2 separate regions of the Homo sapiens genome follow, and region 1 is linked to region 2. The links come from fine-mapping of genetic effects on gene expression. A gene starts in region 2. The other region holds a variant in brackets. All regions are shown on one strand. Distances are between the middles of the regions.

What was found. PIP is the estimated chance that this variant, and not a neighbour inherited with it, causes the effect. A credible set is the group of variants that fine-mapping cannot tell apart.
Region 1: its variant is the best candidate, but not a certain one, in a credible set for the expression of GPR75 in blood mononuclear cells (TOPMed, PIP 0.69).

Annotation. Positions count from the first base shown.
Region 1 is chr2:53,931,522-53,934,435 of GRCh38, forward strand. PSME4 (proteasome activator subunit 4) reads right to left here. Exons shown (of 47, transcript NM_014614.3): 9 at 1,147-1,239; 10 at 314-579. Among named protein-coding and RNA genes, the nearest start is that of PSME4, 38 kb to the right of the region's middle. The variant A/G (reference allele first, on the strand shown) is at 1,624.
Region 2 is chr2:53,858,489-53,861,402 of GRCh38, forward strand. It overlaps GPR75 (G protein-coupled receptor 75), which reads right to left and starts at 1,479. Exons shown (of 2, transcript NM_006794.4): 1 at 1,340-1,479. GPR75-ASB3 (GPR75-ASB3 readthrough) reads right to left here and starts at 1,479. Exons shown (of 10, transcript NM_001164165.2): 1 at 1,340-1,479. The coding sequence starts at 1,440.

The DNA of each region.
Region 1 (2,914 bases), 73 kb after region 2:
CAATCCTTAGTGACACTCAACATTTCGATCTAAAAAGGAAGGCCAGATCTTAATTCATAAGCATATAATTTTGGTAACTAAAATGTGTGAAGAATCCAAAAGATGTATGTTACCCATTTCATTTCAATTTTTTTCTCTCCAATAAACCTTTATCAAGTTACCAATCATTACATTAAAATGTCCTGCTTCTCCTCTAGGAACAGGAATAAGCATCGAAGAAGCAAAACAGAAGCCACAGAGGAGAAAAGAGAATCGAGCTGAACAGACCAAAAGAAAAACCTAGCTGTGGCTGAGACTCCCACTAACCACTTACCTTTCAAGTACAGGGGGTATTACCAATTCAGGTCTCATGAGTGCAAGATTCTGCAAAGCCTGGGCTGCTTCTAGACTACCGGTTTTGCTAAACATAGCCAAGAGGACAGGCTGAATAATGCATTGTACAAAGTCTGTAACATCTTGATCAGTAAGCTTGTGGCTATCAGGCACAGGAGTTAACCAAGAGGGCTTCTTGTATCTTTCACGATGCAATCTTCTAACAACACTGTTTGGCAACCGCTGAAGTAGTTTCATTAACTTGTTCTGGGGACACAGAAGCAAAAAGTTCTAAGTAGGTTCTACTTTGCCGCATAGACATTCATGGTTGCTCTCTAGCTTCTTGAGAAAAGATTTTAAAAATAACAGTTCTTATTATCTTATTACAAAGAACTGCACAGCATAACTAGATAGAATTAAAAGTTACCAATTAATTATTCCTAATAATTAATGAAAATGAGTTTCAAATTCCAGTCTAAAAAAATTTCTAGCACATAATTTTCCATTACATGAAAGCCATTTTAACTGGACAACTTAAAAACAACAAAAACAGATGACAGGATAAAACTGAAAAGATGGTTCTATGCTTCTAAGGCATTTTTGTTACCATTTTTTTGCAAAAATGAGCCATGTTGTCAACAGTTACCACATCAATATTATTTATTTAATTTATATGCTCTCCCACACAGTAATTTAATTTAAATGTAAGCATTTACATATAGCTAAAGCTATGAAGGACAGAAAATGTATTACAGGTCACACAATAGGCAATAGTCAAGGATGACCATATCTTTAAAAATTCCAAGCCCTATAATGCAAAACGAAGTTACTCACCAGCCAGCGCCCATTATTTGAAGGATGGTAAAAAGATGTGATGCTGTTAAACAAACCAGCTAAGTGTTTTTGCACTAGCTTACTTGGTCCACCCTGTCCAGATAAAAGAGTAAAAATGTCAGTACCCACATCATACTGTAAAAACAGAGGTCAACAGGCCCAAGCCTATACGTAAATCACTAATACAGTTTATAGTCAACTTGCTGACAAAAATAAATTCTACCTTTAAATAAGAGTCAAAAACAATTCCCTGATGAACTTCATGCAAACCAACTCAAAATATTCTACTGCAAATAAGGGCAGCTTACTTGAACCAACATAAAAAACTAAAAAAATACCTGTCAACTTAGGATAACAAACAGCGTACTTTACTGTTCTGCAGTAAATAACCTGGATACTAAAATTTATCACTAAGATTATCATCTTAAAATTACCAAGAATGCTAACATCAGGCATAAAAAACCTGATGTAAGGCTG[A/G]GGCGGGCAGGTCACTTGAGGTCAGGAGTTCGAGACCAGCCTTGCCAACATGGTGAAACCCTGTCTCTACTAGAAATACAAAAATTAGCTGGGCATGGTGGTGGGCGCCTATAGTCCCAACTACTCGGGAGGCTGTGGCAGGAGAATCACTTGAACCCGGGAGGTGGAGGTTGCAGTGAGCTGAAATCACGCTACTGCACTCCAGCCTGGGCGATAGAGCGAGACCATCTCAAAAAAAAAAAAAAAAAAAAAAAAAAAAGCGTTTCCCTCTGTTGTCCAGGGTGGAGTGCAGTGGCACAAACATGGTTCACTGCAGCCTCAATCTCCTAGGCTCAAGCGATCCTCCCACCTCAGCCTGCTGAGGAGCTAATACCATAGGCATGTGTTATCATGCCCGTGCTTACTTTTACTTTTGTTTTCTTGTACAGGGTCTCGCCATGTGGCCCAGGCTGGTCTCAAACTCCTGGGCTCAAGCTATCCTTCCATCTCGGCTTCCCAAAGTGCTAGGATTACAGATGTGAGCCATGGCACTCAGCCATATTTTCACACTTAACACAAAATGAAGTTGCCAATGAGAACTGTGTGAGAAAGCAGAGCAAAATTCACTCACACAATAACTAATACTAATCACTATCCAATTCTGTAGCCCCCAAAAATCCAGTTTCAACTCACTGCATATGTAAGATAGTAAACATCTTTCAGTGTTTGCTCCTACTGATTAAGAAAAATGGGATTTTTCTGTGTAACAATAAAATGGCAAAAACAAGGGGGGGCTTAAATTTGTTTTTCTTACAATGAAGTTTAAGAAGTAAACTTTTAAACAAAAAAAAATTGTCTTTTCCACAGAAACAAGCTAACGTGTAAAACAGAATAATAATTCATGAAGAAATAGCTGCAGAAGCAATATATGAATGATAAACTAGATAATTATAATAGGAAGCTGTTCTAATATTCTTATATGAAAGATGACATTGAAATCTAAGCTTGATATGTCTTCACTTTCCTTTAATGATGTCAACAAAGTAATCCTTCACATCTCTCCCTTCACTAAGATTACTTTGTTAGTAAGCTTTATGTTCAATGCAATGTTTTATGTGAATATTAACAGTGAGTAAGTAATGGAGTCTAAGCACATACAAATCCTGAGTTGTAATCCTACCTTGGGAAAGTCTTCCGGGCTACAAGTCTGGTTCCCGGACAGTAAAAATGTTAGACATCGTGAATCCCTCAAAACCCTAGATTTTTGACTCTATTTATAATGTCCATTGGTTAGGGAGATTTAGAAATGGTA
Region 2 (2,914 bases):
ATCACTCCTATTGAGATAATTAGAAAAAAAGGAATCATGGGCTGGGAAGAGAAAAGGGAGAAAAAGCAGAGGACAGAAAAGACGAAAAGGTTTGCAGAAAAACTTTAGTATAACAGAAATCAAGAAAATGGAGGGAAAGTAAACTCAGGTCTTAGTAGTAACTCCTGAGACTTTAAGAAAAAGGAGGCTGTGACCATAATTTGGAATGACATGATGACGGCAGAAAATAAAAGTGGTTTTGGAAGGGGAATAAATTAATACTGCTTTGCTACTCATAAATATTCAATAAAGATTACCCATGTTATTTGCAATGCAAACATACAAGCTACTCTTCATCTCTGGGACGGAGAATAGGTTATAGAAGATGTGATTAAAGTCACAAAATCAGAAAGATTTTAAGCTGGAACACCAGTCTTAAGCATGCATATTAGCTGCAGTAAGAATGAATTCACATGCATATTCTTACAAATGAGACATCCTGAAGTAACTAGCAAGCAAAGAATATGGATGAAAATTTATTGTATAATTTGAGTGGCAATGATTTTTCATTAAGATATGTGAACAGCCTCTGATATATCTAGTGTGCTGTTTTAAATTTTTAGTGAACATTAAAACATGCTATAGGGGCTTTCATAAATCAACTCACGACCTGAATTCTTCCAACCCCATTCCCCGCGCGCCCCAAAATGTCTTAGGTTAGCATTTTCAAAGCCTAATCCTCACAGAGAGCAAGGTTCTGTATTATTGTGATTCCCATTGTATTTCTATCGATCAGGAAAACCTCAGGGAGGTTAGATAACTTCCCCAAGGTCATTATCTGATTTCAAAGCCCTTGCTCTTTCTATCCAGTAGAACTACATTGAACCCGGAGCAGCTAATGGGATGGGAAGACCTGAGTCATTTGATGGGAGGGATGAAGAGGCCAGGGAGCCCCCAGCCTGAGGACAGAGTGGGAAACTGCGGGCAGGGAAGGTCGACCCCCCCGTGAGGGGCTGGCGGTGGGTAGGGGCTTCCCGGAGAAGGGTGAGGTGACGGTAAGGAGGGCCTAGGCCGGGCCAGGTAAGCTTGCAAAAGAATGCCGCAGAGGGGTGGTGGGTTAGGAGGGCTCAGCCAGGGTAGGGGCGGTGGGTGGGTGGGTGGGGGGGGTTCCACGGCCGAGCAGAGCCTGGGAACCGGCAGGGACGGGCGAGAAGGCTACCCTGCAGGCCGCACCAGGAAGACAGGTACGCGGAGCCGGGCCTGGCCCAGCGCAGCCGCGCTCCTCGCTATCCCGCCAGCCTCCGGGAGCCGTCTCCGGCATCGTGGGGTTGTCCTCCTCCAGGGGCCCGCGGCCTCTCACCTGCCGGGTGGCCGCAGCGCCGCCCCTCCTCCATCTCGCAGTCCGGACCCCAGCTCCGCCTGCCGCTCTGGATGATGCAGGACTAGAGGCATCATCGCCATCGCCACCGCCTCCGCGCATCCCGGGAGCCGCGGCAAGACGCGGGCGCAGAGGCGCAGTCACGGAGACGCCGAGGGCACCGCCCCCTCCGCCGGACACCCGGGCCTGGCGTCCCGCCTGCGCCCCGCACCCTCCGCGCCTCCGTCGCCTGCCTCCTGGGGCCCAGAGCCCGGCCACTCCCGCTGCCCGCCTCACGAGGGGCGCTTGAGCCAGGTTTTTCAGGCTCGCAGTTTTGCTGTTTGGGGAACTCAAGCTCCCTGAAATAGCCAAAACCTGAAACGCAGAGCAAGGTGGAGTGGTAAGGAAGGAAGGGAAAGATAGGGGTACTGATGGCACGCAGGGACCCAGGGAGGTCTTTGCGGGCCTCCCTAGGCTGCTTACCCTGCCCGCAGCCCACCTCCTCCTCGTTCCCCGCGCTTTTAAGACGTCCTAACTAGCTCCTCACTTAGGCTGCGGCTAATATTTTTCCTCATGAATTAAATTGGCGGCGGCTTCCAGTTTGGAACTTTGAGACCTAGAATTTACAAATCAAGTCATTGTAATAGAATTTAAATTAAACCTATTTGAACTTACCTAAGCTCTCTTAAGGTATTAGTGAATTCACTGAGGGAACTCAGCAAGGGGACTAATTGGCAGGAAACATGCAAAGCATAAAGAAACTACCCATGCAAATAAAACGACCAAGCCCAGGAATCATGGATATTGATGTATTACTTAATACTATGTTGAATGTAAAAAATCTTGATAAATCATAGTGCAATGTACAAGCTAATTTTATTAAGCACAAACACAAAACTAAAATTACCATCCTCTCTCATTCTTCTAGAATTCATACATGTCCAAAATAATGAACTCCTAAGATAGGTTTTAGTCTGAACAATCAAGTAACATTCCTAAGTATGTCTGCTATGATGGGTACAAAATAAAACCAGTTAAACTCTTCTCCCTTCAGTATCCCAACCTGGCTAACTAGGATCTTACTACTTTTCTAACCTCAGGGATGCTATTTAGAAACAGAGAATGTTATTTGAATGCCCTTTCCTTCATTCACTCTGGTTACCAGAAAAGCAAAGTTGATTCCGTTCGGATGAAATACTTATACTGGATTCTTCATTTTAGCTAATGGTTTATCTTTTTAAAACAGAACTAGCAAGTATCAAGTAATTTAATTAATGCAATTTCTTCAGTTCCCTGTGCTTTCATAAAAACAAAACAAAACAAAAACAAACGAAAAAACAAAAAGCAAGAAGGCTAGATAACTTATTATTCAGTCCAGGAGTTGAGTATGCCATCAGAATTCTGTTTAGAAATAACTTCAAGAAAGTTTTCCAGTTCCCACATATTCCACTTCCCAACCACTTGCAATAAAGCAGTTCCAGTATATGTTATCAATAATGGTAACCATGAGTCCCAGAAACAATCCACAGAAAAATACTCATTAGCATTTGGAGTGGGAATTCTGATCAAAATTATATA